Linked DNA regions of Homo sapiens: region 1 is linked to region 2. Evidence: fine-mapped expression QTL. A gene starts in region 2. The other region holds a variant in brackets. All regions are shown on one strand. Distances are from middle to middle. Region 1 holds the start of CFAP119 (cilia and flagella associated protein 119). Region 2 holds the start of MIR762HG (MIR762 host gene).

Region 1 (8,323 bases), 110 kb after region 2:
CTCAGTCCCTCCCTTACAGGCCCAGGACCTCTCAGCCCCTACAGCAGCCCACCTTGAGGCGCTCATTGGTCCGCACAGCCCCCTGAAGTTCGGCCTGCAGTTTCTCCAGCTCTGCCATACGGCTGTTGGCCAGTTCCTGGTTTTCCTCTAACTCTGCATTCAGCATCTCAAACTAAGGAGTGGGAGGCAGGGCCATGGGAGGCAGGGCCAGACGTGGCAGCAGGCCTCCCTTACATCCCCAGCATACACTCCACCCCAAGCACCCCGTGCAGGGCAATGATCGATTCTGACACCCCAAACCAAGTACTTTCCTAAGGGCTCCCAGAAAAATGGGAGAAAATTCAATACTGCATGGTCGGTGCTGGGAACTAAGGCTCTTAACTGATGGGGAGTCACGGAAGGCATTCCAGAAAGGCCTAAAGTGCTAATAAAGGGAAAAAGGGCACAGTGACCACCAGATGCCAACTGACTCCAACTCACTCTTAGCTCTCTCTTCTGTGCTTTATCTTTGTGGTACTCATAACACACTGATATGCTATTTTACTGATTTCTTGTCTGTTACCACAAGTAGAACCTAAAGATATATTCTTTTATTTATTTCTTGTCTGGTCCATGAAAGTTTTGACCTCTATTTTGTTCTCGCCAATATGCCTAGTGCCTAGCACTAAGTGTTCAAAAATCTACTCAACAAGTATATGAATGCATGAAAAAAAGAGCAGCAGGAGTGACCAGGAAGGGCCTCAGAGATGGATGTTTGTCCTTTGTCCTGAGGGGAATTTCAAGAGTGCAACAGAGAAGAGGTTGTGAGAAGGGGTGGGAGGAAAACGCCGCTCACCTTCTGCATGCTGAGTGTGATCTGGCCCCCCTGGAAGCCTGAGGAGCTCCCAGATACATAGTAGCCAGAGTTAAGCTGTGGAGAGAAAACAGACAGGCAATGGATGTAGAGGGGAGGAGCTAAGGCCCAAGGGCCCAGCCTTGCCTCACCTGCCCCAGCACCCCTGCCCCACCTGCTCTAAGGCCTCTGCCAGGTGCTTATTGAGCTTTTGCTCTCGCTTCCGCAGCTTCTCGATGTCCCACTGCAAGTCCTCCACTGTTGTCTCCATCTCCAGCACCTTGGTCTCTGCCGATGTCACTTTATCCTGGAGCTCGGAGTACTGGGAACAATGAGGGAGCAGATGCTTGGATGGGGGACTTGGTTCCTGAGGTCCCTGAGTGCCCATCTAACCCAAATCCTGCCTGATTCTAATCACACCCCCAAAGCCCCCGGCTCCTCACCTCCAATGAGATGCGGTGGTGTTTCTCCTGCAGCTGAGTGGCCAAGTCCTGCAGTCGCCGGTTCTCACGGCCCAGCTCTCGGGTGTGTGCCTGAGCCGCCTCACTGAGGGGCTCACTGTCCCCTGGGAAGGCAGGGCCCAGGTAAGAGCCCAGCTCAGGGCAATGGGGCAAACAACTAACTCATTCTGGAGTCTGCTATATACCCAGTGTGATCCACCAGCTGTCTTGCCCATTTCTCATGACAAAGCCAGGAGTCTTTATCCCCACTGCACAGAGAAGGAAACCAGCTCAGAGAGGGGAGCCACTTTCCCAGCATGTCCAGGTGAGGGTGGCAGAACTAAGGTGGGAGAAGCCTGTCAACCTACAAGGCCTGAGCCCTTGAAGCTATGCCTTGTGGATCCGCAACCCACACCAAGTGCTCCAGAGGGGCCTCTGGCCAGGAGCCTCTACCGGCATCAACAACTCCTCCAACCCATCTCTCTAGCATTCAATCCCGGAATCAAAGTTGGAACCCCCATCTACAGCCTAACCTACCTCTTCCAAGAACATGGCTGATTTATTCCTTGGGAAATTCTGGCCGCCCTTGGACTCGGGCATTAGGGGAATCAGGAAGGGGTGCCATCAAGATGCAGGTGGGGATGGACACCCCTTCAGTATGGGCACAAAGAACCCACCTCGGCTGTACACTCGCTGACAGAGTTCCTCCACCCGGCGCTGTAGGCGGTCTGAGGCCTCTACCACACGAGACACAGCTGCCTTGGAGAACTCCATTCGGCCTTGCAGCTCCAGCTCCACCTCCTCACTGCTGCTGGCACCCAGTGCCACCACAAAAGCCAAGGCCGGCTCACTGAGAGGGGGCCGCAGCTGCATCAGCAAGGGGTCTGGAAGGAATGGACAGACCCTCATGAGGATAAGAGCAGCAGTTACTACCACTCTGTACCAAGTTCCAGACTGAGCCCTTCAATACTCATGGTTCACTTAATCAACACAACCTATAGTGCACTATTATCTCCATCCTGAAAGTGAGACAAATGAAATTCAGGGAGGTAAAGTAATTTCCTCAAAGCTACAGAGTTGCGTATCACATCCTCAGGGAAGCTTCCTGTACTTTACCAATATAATTAGAATCACACGCACATGCATGCACACACAATCATTCCGTTTCAGGAGCCCCAGTACTTTCTGCTTACTATGTTTATAATTTCCTCCCTTATAGCAAGTGCAACACTCATTTCTAGGAAGCGTCAAATACATATTTAATACTCAACCATAATACTGTTTTGAAACAAATGGGTGTCAAAACATGAATTGCTCTATAAACCAAGTTAGTCAGAGTCTAAAGCCTGTGTTTTTGTGCACTGCACTTTACTGCCCAAACATGAAATCCATTTCGTGAGAAGTAGTAAGATAGGCAATTCAGGGGCCCAACACCAAAGTCCCCTCCTCCCCAGGACTTCTCCCAGAACTTAAGCTCCCCAGATCCCAGCACTCTGGTCCTACCTCTCAGCTCTGATGTCCCCGGCTCTGGGAGAGGAGTCCCATCACATGTTGGCCCCTCCTGGGTCCCAGGTGCCTCAGGCGCTGAAGACAGCTCCCCCTGGCTCTCATGGCATCGGAGAAGGGCTTCCACAGTTTCATCCAGCTGGAAGGAGAAAACATCAAAAATGTTATGAATCCCTTAGTGCTTTCCAACATGATACTCCTTTCCTAGCAGGGGAATCTGGGGATTGGCAGCTGAATCAAGGCCTGGTCTTTGAAAGCAGAAGGTATCCACCTGGGCCCAGTAGCGATTGACGATGAGGAGTGTGGCATCATCTGTGGCCTGCCGCTTCTCCAACTTCTCAATTCGTTCTCGGAGTTCATCTTCACAAGCCTGCCGTTGTTCCAGCCGCTCTGCCAGTTTCTTGTTCTTGAACTGTAGTACCTTCAGGTCCATCTCCTCCTACCAAAGGAAACAAAGGGGCCGACGAGAGCGTCAAGCAGGGCCCACAAACCAATCACAGAGAGAGAAAGAGGAGCAGAGCATCTGCAATGCATGGGAGATGGAGGTATTCCCACACTAACCGCTAACAGAATCTAAGGAGGCTCAGACAACACACAGCGAAAGTGTCTTTGTTGTGAGGAGGCTCACGTTGTTTCTGCCTGTCCCCTTGTAAATCCTTAGTCTTTGACAAGTCACACGCCCCCTGGAAACCTGTTTTCCTATCTGTAAAGGGAAGACAGGCGTCGTGTTCTGAGCTTCTTTCTAACCTTTCTTTCAAGGTCCTGTAACGCGGACCTTGCTAAACTTGGGGAAGTGGGTGTAAGATTCCGCACAGTTTGGCCAGAGAACAGAGGGAGGGCTCTGGGAAGTTCTGAGGGTTAAGGCAAGAGCCCACGAACCGTGGAAGAGATGCCTCCAAGACGAATGGGCTCGATAAGAGTCGTGGTGGTCTTCTCCTCACGACTCAGCTTCTTTTCCGGGGGCCCTGAGCCCCCGTCGCCGGCGGCGCGTTTGTTGCCTGGCCCAGACATGGCCGCGGCGGCTGGAGCGATGCAGGGTCCCCTGAGGGGCGTCAAACGGGAGGAGGCGGTACTTCCGTCACCTGCAGAAGACACAGAGCAGAGATGTGGGAACGGCTGGTGTTCCACAGCCCCAAACACCCTCCACCCTGCACACACCTGCTGGATCCCGTCCCCCCCGGCGCCAGAGCCCTCACCAGCAGGAGGGTCAGCCTAGCGCCGCCATCTTGGATTTCACCGGACGTCACTGGGCGTCACTGGACGCCACTGCCCCCCCCCCAACGGTGCGCAGGGCGCAGGCGCCAAAGGCAGCCCCGGATGTGAGGAAACTTCTTTATCTTCTGCTTCTATTGGTTACGCTTGGTCCCGCCACTCGGGTCCTCTGGCTTCTTCCCAAACACCTCCTCTTTCTCTCGGTGATTGGCCAAGAGGCAGTTCCCATAGTAACTGACACCGCGCTCCCACTTCCCAGCCTGGAGGACAGCACCGGCCCTCGTATTAGCAACCTGGAAGAGAGGGCGCCCAGGTGGGCACTCGCAACTTCTCACGTATCTGCGCGTTCTCTT[C/T]GCTCCCACTGGCGTGAGCCTGCGCTTTCCGCCTTCCTTCCCTCACAAGCCCCCTTGGCAACCGTCGCCGTTGAGACGGAGGGAGACGCCCCCACGGATTCGCCCCGCCGCGCCTCTCCGCGCGTAGATTGGCCGGAGCGAGGCGAACGGGCCCGGCCTTGGTAGCCGCCGACCGAGCGCTGGCTGTCCTGGAACCTAGGCGGCGGGAGCCCGGGGCGCCTCGCGGCACGGAAGAGCGGCGAGATGCTCAACCGCAAGACCAGCCACTTTTTGGGAATGAGGGTGCAGTCGGAGCTTGAACATCTCTCCGAGCTGCGGCGGGAAGCGGGGAAGGATCGCAGCTCAGTGCATGGGTCGGCCGCGCGGACGCGTGCGAGTGTGCGGACTCAGTGGACGACGGCGGCGGCGGCGAAAGCGGATGAAGACCCCGGAGCCAACTTGTTTCCGGTGAGGGCGGGACAGTCTGGTCTGCTCGTGAATATTTATAAACCGGCTCCCCCGCAGGCGCCACCTGTCATTATGCTTACTAACGTTCGGGACGTCTCCCGGGCTGCTTGGGCGAGGAGAGGCAGGGGTGTGTGACCCCGGTGGTTACTGTGCTCGCGTAGAGCACCTAGGGCCTGCTGAAGCCCTCCCTCGCCCGCGCCTCTCCTTAGTCCTTGAGATGAGATGGCAAGTTACAGCGGCTTCTCCGGCCTGCTGGAGATTCGCTACGGGCCAGGACACCGCAGCTGCCTTCCCCAATTCGCTTTCTTTCCGCAGCCGCCGCTGCCCCGACCCCGGATCTGCATGTGGTGAGTGTGAAGAGACAAAAATTACACTGAATATTTGCGTTCTTTATTGTCTCCCCAACAGTCCTGTCTGTGGCCAGGGCATCCCCATTTTACAGATGAGACTGAGGCCTGGAGATGCAATTACTCCAGGTGACTGGAAGTTGGCTTTCCAGCCTCTCCAGTCCAAAGAGGAGGCAGTGTGAGAAAAAAAGAGCCAAAGACAGAATGTAAATGGAGTCTCATGGCCGCTAAGGAGTATTGTACAGAGGGGGACACTGAGGGCCACAGGGAGTACTTGACCAAGGTCATACAAGGTAGTGGCAGAGCAGAAAAAAGAATTCAAGATTCCTAACCCTAGGCTTTAGAAATGGAGAGGCTCATAAGAGTTCATTTAGGCCCAGAGAGTTAACGATTTGCATAGTCACACAGCAAGCTGGCAAAAGAGCCCAGCTTCACGCCGGTGGCCAACTCCCAGTCTCACGCACTAGCTGTCACAGCCTTGTCATGATAGGTAACGGCCACCAATACTCTTTTTCTTTTACTATAACAGGAAGTACCTGGACGTCCATTCCATGCACCAGCTGGAGAAGACCACCAATGCTGAGATGAGGGAGTAGGGACTGAGGGGGGCGTGGGAAGAGCTCTTGGCAAAGGCTGAGGGGTCAGGTTGGGAAAACATGAGGAATGGCTGACTCCAAAGCATGTGGTGGGTGTAGGGTGATGAAAGGAGGCCCAGTTGTCACTCACTCCTCTCTCCCTCCCAAGGGTGCTGGCTGAGCTGCTGGAGCTAGGGTGTCCTGAGCAGAGCCTGAGGGACGCCATCACCCTGGACCTCTTCTGCCACGCGCTCATTTTCTGCCGCCAGCAGGGCTTCTCACTGGAGCAGACGTCAGCGGCTTGTGCCCTGCTCCAGGATCTTCACAAGGCTTGTATTGGTGAGAGGGGGCAGCTACCAGGTTTGAGCCCCAGGGAGAAGAGGAACCGGGCCTGGCACAAGTGACCATGGGAAGCAGAAGCAGGGGATTTCTGCCTGGAATATGTCATTATTAGTAGCATCATCATACACAAGCCATCAGCTTTCCAATCCACTGCTTCCTTATCTAGAAATTAAGGATACAGCACACATTTTACAGGACTGTTCTGAGAAATAATATATGCAAATATATGCATAGTGCACAATAACACCTGCTTTAGAATGTTTAATAGCTCTTGCTTCAGAATGTTTAATAGCTGAAATGATCTATTTCTTGGTTTATTCCCCTAGAATATAAGCTTCGTAAGGGCAGGACCTTGTCTGTCTTGTTCAGTGCCGAAAACCATACAGTGGGCATATAGTGGGTATTCAGTATTTGTTACATGAGTTAAGGAAACAAGCCAGTGCTGAAACCCAGATCTGTCTGCTTCTGAAGCTCATGGTCATAAACAGCTGTTGAGTGAAGTGAATGAATGGATACCAGAGAGGGCCTCACTGCTGCATCTTGCTTTCCCTACCAGCAACCCCCTTGGGCAACGTGGAGGAGTGCTACCGCTACTTCACCAGTGTCCTTTTTTGCCATGGAGTCAGGGTCAGTTCCCCTGGAACATTCTGGAAACTTTACCCATCCCCAGACAAGGTCTCACCCAGTCTCTCTCACATTCATCACCCTTATCTTCTTGTGAAGACCCCAGTGGGCTCTCCTTGCTCCTGTTGCTGGGCTTTTGGAGGCAAAGCCAGGGCTCCGGAAGGTAGTCAGGGTTCTAATTCCGAGTCACCACCACAGCGGCCTCCTTTCAGCATCGACCTCTTCAAAGAGGAACAGCTGCTGGCCTTGGAAGACTACGTGGTCAACACTTACTTCCGCCACTTCAAGCTCTATAAATACGTCTTCACACCCCAGGTAGGGGGTGGTGGACCATGAGGAGCCACCCTCAACCGCCCCTCCCCTCAGCACAGGTGCACTCCTTTCAGCCTCCCTCTGCCTTGCTTCCCAGGTGCGGCTGGATCTGTCTTTGACTTACATGGGGCTACAGCCACCCAAACTGTGGCCAGAGAGTGAGACGGGTAAGGGAGAGTGCCAGGGCAGGGCTGGGCTGGGCCAGGCCTGGGGCCACAGTCTCTTCCTGCTTCTGGTTTGCAGAGAAAGAAGAAAGCAAGGAGATGGAGGAGCAGGCAGTTACCCCGCAGAAAGAGGAACTAGAGACAGTGGCCCCACCAGAGCCAGAGCCAAGTGAGGATCTGGAGAGGGCAGGCTGCCCTGTCCCTCTGAGCAGGTGTAGAATGAAGGGTTTGGATGACATCAGGACTTCAGACTTTTTGTTTTTAGTCAGAGTCCTTTCTCTAAATGATCCCTTATGCAGAAGTCCAAGATGACAGATAAAAGCACAGCTGCAGGCCAGGCGTGGTGGCTCACACCTGTAATCCCAGCACAATCTGAGGCAGGCGGATTGCCTGAGCTCAGGAGTTCGCGACCAGCCTGGGCAACACCGTGAAACCCCCTATCTACTAAAATACAAAAAATAGCCAGGCATGGTGGTGCGCGCTTGTAGTCCCAGCTACTCAGGAGGCTGAGGCAGGAGAACTGCATGAACCCAGGAGGTGGAGACTGCAGTGAGCCAAGATCTGGCCACTGCACTCCAGCCTGGGCAACAGAGCAAGACTCTGTCTCAAAACAAACAAACAAACAAACAAAAAGCACAGCTGAAGTGGCTCCAGAGAAATGATCATTAGAAAGCCAATGACGGTGGCTTAAAACCTATATGATGGGTTGATGGGTAAAGCAAACCACCATGGCCCATGTATACCTACGTAGCAAACCTGCATGTTCTGCTCGTATCCCAGAACTTAAGAGTTAAAAAAAAACAAAGAACAGGCCAGGTGCAGTGGCTCACAACTGTAATCCCAGCACTTTGGGAGGCTGAGGCAGGCGGATCACGAGGTCAGGAGATCGAGTCCATCCTGGCTAACACTGTGAAACCCCGTCTCTACTAAAAATACAAAAAGTTAGCCGGGCGTGGTGGCGGGTGCCTGTAGTCCCAGCTACTGGGAGGCTGAGGCAGGAGAATGGCATGAACCTGGGAGGCAGAGCTTGCAGTGAGCTGAGATCGCTGCCACTGCACTCCAGCCTGGGGGATAAAGCAAGACTCCATCTCAAAAAAAAAAAAAAAAAGAGAAAGCCAATGACAATAACAGCCAGCACATACTTGGCAATAGGTGTGCAGTGCATGCCC
Region 2 (8,323 bases):
CGGATTATTGTGTGAATCAGTAGTTTGTTCCTTTTTACTGCTAAATTATATTCCATAGGCCAGGATCACTCTGCTGGGTGGAGAAGAGATGGGCCCTGCCAGGGCTCAGAGACTCAGGTGAATGCACCACAGGGAGATGGACAGCCTTTTCTTAGGAATTTCTAGAATGCGAAGTCTGTGGCATCAGTCTCCCCAAAAATCTGGGAAAACAGAACTACATCAGGAGAATCTAGCATGACCAAGCATCCCTGTTTGCCCAGGACTTTCTTGGTTTTAGCACTGCAGGTTCCATGTCCCAGGAGACACCCCAGTCTTGAGCAAACTGGGATGGCTGATCACCATCACCCTAGCAGGATCCTGCCACTGCCCTTGGGGCTTCCGGACCCTTTTCACACAAGATTACATTCTGTTCCTCCTACAGAATGATTTTCCTTAAACTCTAAACTGGGCTCCTCTCCTGTTCTAAAACTTCCCATGGCTCCCCATGGCTGAGCCTGGCAACTGAAAGCACGTAGTCTCTGGTAGTGTGCATACTGGAATCACCTGGGGAATCATTTAAATATTCTGATGGCTGCCTTCTACCCTTGACATTTTTTTTTTTTTTTTTGAGACGGAGTCTCGCTTTGTCACCCAGGCTGGAGTGCAGTGGCACGATCTCAGCTCACTGCAACCTCTGCCTCCCGGGTTCAAGTGATTCTTCTGCCTCAGCCTCCTGAGTAGCTGGGATTACAGGTGCGTGCCACCACGCCCAGCTAATTTTTGTATTTTTAGTAGAGACTGGGTTTCACCATGTTGGTCAGGCTGGTCTCAAGCTCCTGACCTCGTGATCCACCCACCTCGGCCTCCCAGAGTGCCAGGATTACAGGCGTGAGCCACCACGCCCAGCCACCCCAGACATTTTTGTTTTTTTTGAAATAGAGTCTCGCTCTGTCGCCCAGGCTGGAGTGCAGTGGCACGATCTCGGCTCATTGCAACCTCTGCCTCCTGGGTTCAAGTGATTCTCCTGCCTCAGCCTCCCGAGTAGCTGGGACTACAGGCGCGTGCCACCACACCCAGCTAATTTTTTTAAATTTTTTTATTTTTAGTAGAGACGGGGTTTCACCGTGTTAGCCAGGATGGTCTCAATCTCCTGACCTTGTGATCCGTCTCCCTCGGCCTCCCAAAGTGCTGGGATTACAGGCATGAGCCACCACACCCGGCCCCACCCCAGACATTTTACATTGGTATCATGTGCAACCTGGGCCCTGGGATTTTTTGTTTTGTTTTGTTTTTTTGAGTCTTGAGTTTAGCTCTATCGCCCAGGCTGCAGTGCAGTGGCATGATCTTGGGTCACTGCAACCTCCGCCTCCCAGGTTCAAGCCATTCTCGTGCCTCAGCCTCCCAAGTAGCTGGGATTACAGGTGCCTGCCACCACACCCGGCTAATTTTTGTATTTTTAGTAGAGATGGGGTTTCACCATGTTGTCCAGGCTGGTCTCGAACTCCTGACCTCAGGTGATCCACCCGCCTTGGCCTCCCAAAGTGCTGAGATTACAGGCATCAGCCACTGCGCCCGGCCAAGGGCCCTGGGATTTTTACAAGCTCCTCAGGTGATGCTAACATGCTGCAAAGCTTGGAGCTGTGAGCCTGTGAATGTGATTTGTTTGGCTTACATGGTGTTGAACATGTTGGCAACATTAAAATCAAGTGATTTCATATAAAAATCTGGACTAGGCTGGGCGCGGTGGCTCACGCCTGTAATCCCAGCACTTTGGGAGGCCGAGGCGGGTGGATCACGAGGTCAGGAGATCGAGACCATCCTGGCTAACACGGTGAAACCCCATCTCTACTAAAAATACAACAAATTAGCTGGGCGCGGTGGCGGGTGCCTGTAGTCCCAGCTACTCGGGAGGCTGAGGCAGGAGAATGGCCTGAACCCAGGAGGCGGAGCTTGCAGTGAGCCGAGATAGTGCCACTGCACTCGGGCCTGGTGAAAGAGCGAGACTCCGTCTCAAAAAAAAAAAAAAAATCTGGACTCAGGCCGGGTGACGTGCCTCACACTGTAACCCCAGCACTTTGGGAGGCTGAGGCAGGAGGACTGCTTGAGCCTAGGAGTTGAGGCTACAGTGAGCTATGTGTTGCTACCCTTCAACCTGCGCGACAGAGCAAGATCCTGTCTCTACCAAAAATAAAAAAAGAAATCTGGACTCCAGCTACCCTTGAAAGCAGATATTCTGAGATACTGAGTTTGCCTCCTGGAGTGGTCATGGGGCGGAGGTTGGTGGGGTAGGGGGGTAGGGGGTGCAGAACACTGACTGCCCTGGGGGCGGAGTCTCTGCCCTTCAGTCCCCGCAATCCCTACCGCTCCCTGGTGTTCCACTCTCCTCCTTGCTGTTCACTTGCATGGCCTCCAGGCTAATGGCTGAGTTTTGCGGCCAGGCATTTCAGGCCTCCCAGCCTTGGCCTCTGCTCACCTTCTCCACCTCCTCACTCCCTGCTCTAGTCATCTTCATCTCATGTCCTGCCCTCCAGCCACATGGGCTTCTTGGTCCCTTCCACACCTGTTTTTGCCCATGGAGTTCTCCCACCAAGTTCCTTATGGTAGAAAAGCCCCTGCTGGATTTGGCCCCTGCCCACCTCTCCTGCCCCTTTCCCCAAGCTTTCTTCCAACTCATGCATAGAACTTCTACCACAAGGAAGCTGGCCAGGCTGTTAGCACTCCCGTTCCCTCTGTCTGTGAAGCCCTTTCCTTCCCTCCACCCTCCCCTTCTCTCTCTTATCTCAGGCTTTGGGTTTGATTTCACCTCCTCCAAGGTTCCCTGACCTTCAAACTAGGTCAGGTCCCTGGTTAGTCACTATACTTCCTCTTTCTCACCTCCTTCATCTCACTTCCCCTGCTAGAATAAGGCCACATCTGTCTCATAATCTCTGTCTTCCTAGGGCCTAGTGTGGTGCCTGGCATACAGTAGGTGCTCATTAATGATAAATGAATGAAAGCAAGCACATCTCCCTTTCTCTACTGGCAAAATCCTAATCCTTTTCTGGTTACATTTCTCCTGTAGCATCCAATTCTGTTCTCGAGACCCAAAAGATCCCTGAGGTCCTGTGATCAATGGAGTTTTAGCTCAGGTCCATTTCACAGTGGGCCCAGGGGATCCCCAGATTCATCCGTGGTTATTTCCCCAGGCACAGAGTGAGTGCACTGGTGGCACAGGCATACCCAGCAAGTGGCATAATCCCCCCCATTAGTTAACTGGGTGTCGCTGTGCATGGCTGTGAAGGCAGGGATGCACCTGGCTGGTGACCCCAGAACCCCTCCGGGTACGGCACAAGGGCAGAGCCCAAGAACTTACTTTCTGTCCTCTTGCATTTGCCTGTGGATTTGCAGTTGGTAATGGCGTTCTTGCCCGGCCCTCCTTTGTTCCTCCAGGCAGCCAGGCAGCTGTGGCGTAGTGAAAGGGCAGGATGCGGGATAGGAATGGAGTTATTCCTGATTCAGACTGATTTGCTCTAACTGTGATTTGGGGCAAGTCCCTTCCCCTGTCTAGACCTTAGCTGGCTGCCGCATCTAAAAAATGGAGCCAATAATCTTTTCCTCGTCTTTGGGGTCATCCATCTTTCAACCACATCAGGAGCAGCGGGAACCAAGTGCAGAGGATGGCCTTAAAAGCAGTATGGGAACCAAATTTTTGTAAAGTAAATATTTTCAACCTTTATATTTTGGAATCACCAGCGGTATTTATTACGTGCACTCTAGGAAATGGAGGCAATGCAATGCCAAAAACAGAAAGTAAAACTGCTGTCCTGTGCCGCGGCCCGGTGGAGGTTTTAATGTCTGTATCTTAAGATCTGGTGAGGGCACGGGTAGGTGCGGCTGGACTGAGTGAAACCAGCCCCGCTGGGCGCCTGGGCCCTTGTCTCAGGGCTGTGCTCGCAGTGGAGGCATCTGCAGCTCGGCACCCAGAGGCCCCGCGACCCTTCCAACCTTTGTGACGCTCCGCGGAGACAAAGGCCGGCGGCGCAGCCTTGGGAAGGGTTAAGGCCACAGACGCAGCCCTGCGCGTGCTAGAGCGGCCGGTGGCGGACTTCCGGTTGGGGCGCGGGCGCGCGCCGCGTGTTCCCGACCCGCCGAGGCTGAGACCTCGGGCAACCTCAGCAGTGCGCAGGGCTGCACTGTCTCCGTCTGCGGCCTGCAGTAAGCGGGTAGGGGATATGTCGCGTGGCCTCGCCTGGTCTGCGGCGGGAAACTCGCATCTAGGCCAGACCCTCCCGCAGGGTCCGCACTCGCGATCTGGGCTGTGGGCAGCATCGTGGCCCCTCGGGGCGTTATAGGGGCGTGAGGATCCCGGGCGAGCTGGGGGCGGGCGGCTTCTTCAGCTCCCTTGCGCCATGGAACCCACTGTATGCCCGTTATGCAGTCAGGAAAGATGAGGCCGGGAAGGAGGGCGTTACGCTGCAACCCCGGAGACCAGCTGTCCCTCGCGTTGCCGCAGTCGGCAGAGGCGTGGCCGGAGCCATTCCCGGTCTCCAGTGCGGCTGCAAGAGCGGGCGCCCGAGGGCGTTCTGCTCCGGGCCTCCACCCGCGAGCTGACCGTGTCAGGCGCGCCACACACGGCGCTTCTCATTCTCTCTCCACCTCGCGAGGCAGAAGCTGCCGTTCCCGTGTCACAGACAGAAAAACAGTCTGGGGTGATTTATCCGGAGTCAAGACTCAGGTCTGTGGCTCAGTCGGGAAGGATAGAAACCCAAGCTTCCTCCGAATGGTTCAGAGACCCGACCAAGTTAAATAATAATGGCCCTGGCTCAGGGGTCTTTAAGTCTTCCCCCCGCCCTCCCCTTTTGTTTTTGTTTTGTTTTGAGACCGCCTCACTGTCCCCCAGGCTGGAGTGCAGCGGTGCGATCTCCGCTCACTGCAGCTTCGACCTCCCGAGGGCTCAGGTGATCCTCCCACCTCAACCTCAGGAGTGTCTGGGACTACAAACACGCGCCACCACGCCCGGCTAATTTTTCTGTTTTTTGTAGAGTCAGGATCTCGCTATGTTGTCCAGGCTGGTCTGGAACTCCTGGGCTCAAGCGATCCTCCTGCCTCGGCCTCTGAAAGTGCTGGGATTACAGGCATGAGCCACCGCACCTGGCTACCCTTTAATTAACTCAAGGAGTTTAATAATTGAATTTAGGCTGGGCTCAGTGGCTCACGCCTGTAATCCTAGCACTTTAAGAGGCCACGTCGGGCAGATCACTTGAGGTCAGGAGTTCAAGACCAGTCTGGCCAACATGGTGAAACCCTGTCTCTACTAAAAATACAAAAATTAGACGGATGTGGTGCCACACACCTGTAATCCCAGCTACTCGGGAGGCTGAGGCAGGAGAATCCCTTGAACCCGGGAGGCAGAGGTTGCAGTGAGCCAAGATCGCACCACTGCACTCTAGCCTGGGCCACAGAGCAAGAATCTGTCTCAAAAAAAAAAAAAAAGGTTTGACACCTATACCTTCCTCTGTGTGTGTGTGTGTGTGTGTATACATATATCTATATATATATGTATATAGAGAGAGGAGGAAAAATTATATAATTTTTCTATATGTGTGTGTGTGTATATATATCTGTACAATTTTTTTTTTTTTTGAGACAGTGTAGCTCTGTGGCCCAGGATGGAGTGCAGGGACTCGATCTCGGCTCACTGCAACCTCCGCCTCCCAGGTTCAAGCGATTCTCCTGCCTCAGCCTCCCGAGTAGCTGGGATTACAGGCTGCTGCTACCATGCCTGGGTAATTTTTGTATTTTTAGTAGAGACAGGGTTTTGCTATGTTGCCCAGGCTGGTCTGGAACTCCTGAGCTCAAAAGTGATCTGCCTGCCCCAGCCTCCCCAAATGCTGGGATTACAGGTCTGAGCCATCACACCCGGCCCATATATACGTATTTTAAAATAACACCTTTACTGAGAGAGATGACTCACACACCATACAACTCACCCATTTAAAGTGTACAGTTCAATGATTCTTAGTATCTTCACAGTTTTGCAAATATCACCACAGTCAATTTTAGAACATTTTCATTACCCCTAAAAGAAACCATACCCATTAACAGTAACTCCCAAGCCTTCCTCCCACTACAGCTCTAGACTACTGCAAATCTACTTTCTGTCTCTATAGAGTTGATTATTTTGGACATTTCATATTAGGGCTTTATGTGGCCTTTTTTGACTGAGATAACCTTTTTGTTGTTGTTTTTAACAAAATCAACTCCTTGAGCTCAGAGCCCTGGCCTATAATCATAGCCAGCTAGAACTGAACAGCATTGTTTTGGTTTTATTGTATCTATTTTTACCACTCTTGGGTACATGATAATTTCTCATTTATGGCAGTGGTTAAAGTTTCCTTTTGAATACACCTAGTTCCATCAAAACGTGAGTTGATAATTTTTAAAGAACAAGATTAAGTAAACAGAAGTAGAGGTGGTCCACAAATTTGTCAGAGGTTGGGAAGATGGGATGTGAATGAAGTTTGGCAAACACTGGATTGTCTGATTTACGGTTCTCCAGGTCATCATTTGAAAACCACCCTCACCTTATTCTTTCATTGCATTTTCCTGACAACTCCTGTAAAGAAGTGCATGATTTTACCGATGAAGAAACAGGTTCAGAGAAGTCAGGTACAATTACTTGTCCAGTGTCACACAGCTAGTGACAGAAGCTAGGCTTAACCAAGTCTGTCTGATTGCCAAAACTACCTACTTACCAAGTCTGGAAGTAGGATAGGGGGTGGGGAATGGACTAGCAGGCTTGAGAGGGGACTCTGGCCACTACCCAAAACATGCGGGCACCAGGCTGCCTGAGTTGTTTTGGGTACCTCTTCTAACAAATATTCAAATATTTCTATGAAACAATTTATGACTCTAAACAGAAATCCCATCTCATTTGCCACTGGGGCTTTCACCCTCTCTCAACGGCACACCGCAGTTCAGGAAGTGCTGCCTGCCTGGAGAATGAGGGTGTGTGTGAACGTGCGTGCTGGTGGTGAGGAGAGTCTGATCTCTAGTTCATCTTGGTTGCTACTGGCATCACTTTCCAAGCCCACAGGGGTCCCTTACACTCCATGACTTCTGCCCTATTCCACCTGTGGGCACCAGAGTCTCTAGGCTGGCTGGGATTACCTGCATATAGGGTCCCATGTTTCTGGAATGTCAGGCCGCCACCTGCTCTCAGGACTGACCACTTTCCTGGAGCACAGCCGCAGGGTATTCACCATGACTCCCTCTCTCCCCTTCCTGGCCAAGGACTTTCCCACCTCTTGCCATCATCTTCATCAGAACTCTGCCTCCTCCCTCAGACCCTATTCCTCATCTTATTCTTTCCCTGTGGGCTTTAACTGACCATTAAATTCAGAACCCATTCCAATAACACGAATATCCTTTTCCAGAGAGAGCTTAATTTTATACCTTAATTTTTGAAATTATAGCATATAGAAGATAAGCAAAACAACCAGGTCCTGCCATGCTCTTGTTCAACACCGATTTAACTCAGTCCACCTCTCTCACAGCTGTGCAATTCAACTTGACCCAAACTTGAGGCTAAGCACCTCCAGACAGGATGATTAGGGTCCATCTGGTCTCACTCAACTTAGGTGAGAATCTCAACCCTAAATCCAAGCAATTATCTGAGTAATTCTGGACCCTATAAAACAAAATAGTGGCCGGGTGCGATGGCTCACACCTGTAATCCCAGCACTTTGGGAGGCCAAGGTAGGCAGATCACCTGAGGTCAGGAGTTCAAGACCAGCCTGGCCAACATGGTGAAACCCTGTCTCTACTAAAAATGCAAAAATAAGCCAGGTGTGGTGGTGCCTGCCTGTAGTCCCAGCTACTCAGGAGGCTGAGGCAGGAGAATCACTGGAACCCGGGAGGTGAAGGTTGCAGTGAGCCAAGATCGTACCACTGCACTCCAGCCTGGGCGACAGAGTGAGACTCAGTCTCAAAAAAAAAAGCTAACATTGAGCTAGGTGAATATTCTCAGAGCACTACATGCATAATCTTACAAAATCATTTCAATAACTTAGTGAGGTAAGTACTCTTATTATTTCCACTTGACAGATGAGAAAAGCAAGGCACAGAGAAGTGAAGTCACTTGTCCCATAGTATATAATAGAGGCAGATCTGAATCCGTATCATCTGACTTCAGAGTGTGTACCCTCAAACACAGAGTTCAGATGAGGCTAACTCCAGCCATCGTTTACAGCAGCATTTCAGTGTTCCCTATACGCTGTCCCCCTCCTAAGTCAGTTTCTAGCTACTTGGGAAGCAGAGTTGGGGATTCCTCTTCCCAGAGATCCAGAGTCGGAGCACCCCAAGA

The links.
Region 1: its variant is fine-mapped to the expression of MIR762HG in skeletal muscle (GTEx, PIP above 0.99). The same link has a PIP of 0.9 or more in breast, liver, lung and whole blood.

What each region holds. Positions count from the first base shown.
Region 1 is chr16:30,758,012-30,766,334 of GRCh38, reverse strand. PHKG2 (phosphorylase kinase catalytic subunit gamma 2) reads right to left here. Exons shown (of 10, transcript NM_000294.3): 10 at 5,159-8,323. It overlaps CFAP119 (cilia and flagella associated protein 119), which reads left to right and starts at 4,273. Exons shown (of 9, transcript NM_001014979.3): 1 at 4,273-4,790; 2 at 5,106-5,137; 3 at 5,667-5,729; 4 at 5,882-6,051; 5 at 6,611-6,681; 6 at 6,877-6,993; 7 at 7,088-7,157; 8 at 7,234-7,323. The coding sequence starts at 4,587. It overlaps RNF40 (ring finger protein 40), which reads right to left and starts at 4,013. Exons shown (of 20, transcript NM_014771.4): 1 at 3,975-4,013; 2 at 3,658-3,860; 3 at 3,050-3,217; 4 at 2,776-2,917; 5 at 1,950-2,156; 6 at 1,276-1,397; 7 at 1,008-1,154; 8 at 836-910; 9 at 53-172. The coding sequence starts at 3,789. RefSeq lists enhancers at 1,557-2,057, 2,058-2,558, 3,695-3,804, 3,925-4,184, 3,672-4,309 and 4 more and a silencer at 4,721-4,950. The variant C/T (reference allele first, on the strand shown) is at 4,344.
Region 2 is chr16:30,871,127-30,879,449 of GRCh38, reverse strand. It overlaps MIR762HG (MIR762 host gene), which reads right to left and starts at 3,990. Exons shown (of 3, transcript NR_110942.1): 1 at 3,964-3,990; 2 at 3,332-3,420. It overlaps MIR4519 (microRNA 4519), which reads left to right and starts at 4,127; the gene lies at 4,127-4,184. It also overlaps a transcript of BCL7C not described here. RefSeq lists a silencer at 3,218-3,277 and enhancers at 3,598-3,647, 3,678-3,887, 3,197-3,951, 4,158-4,417, 3,952-4,706 and 1 more.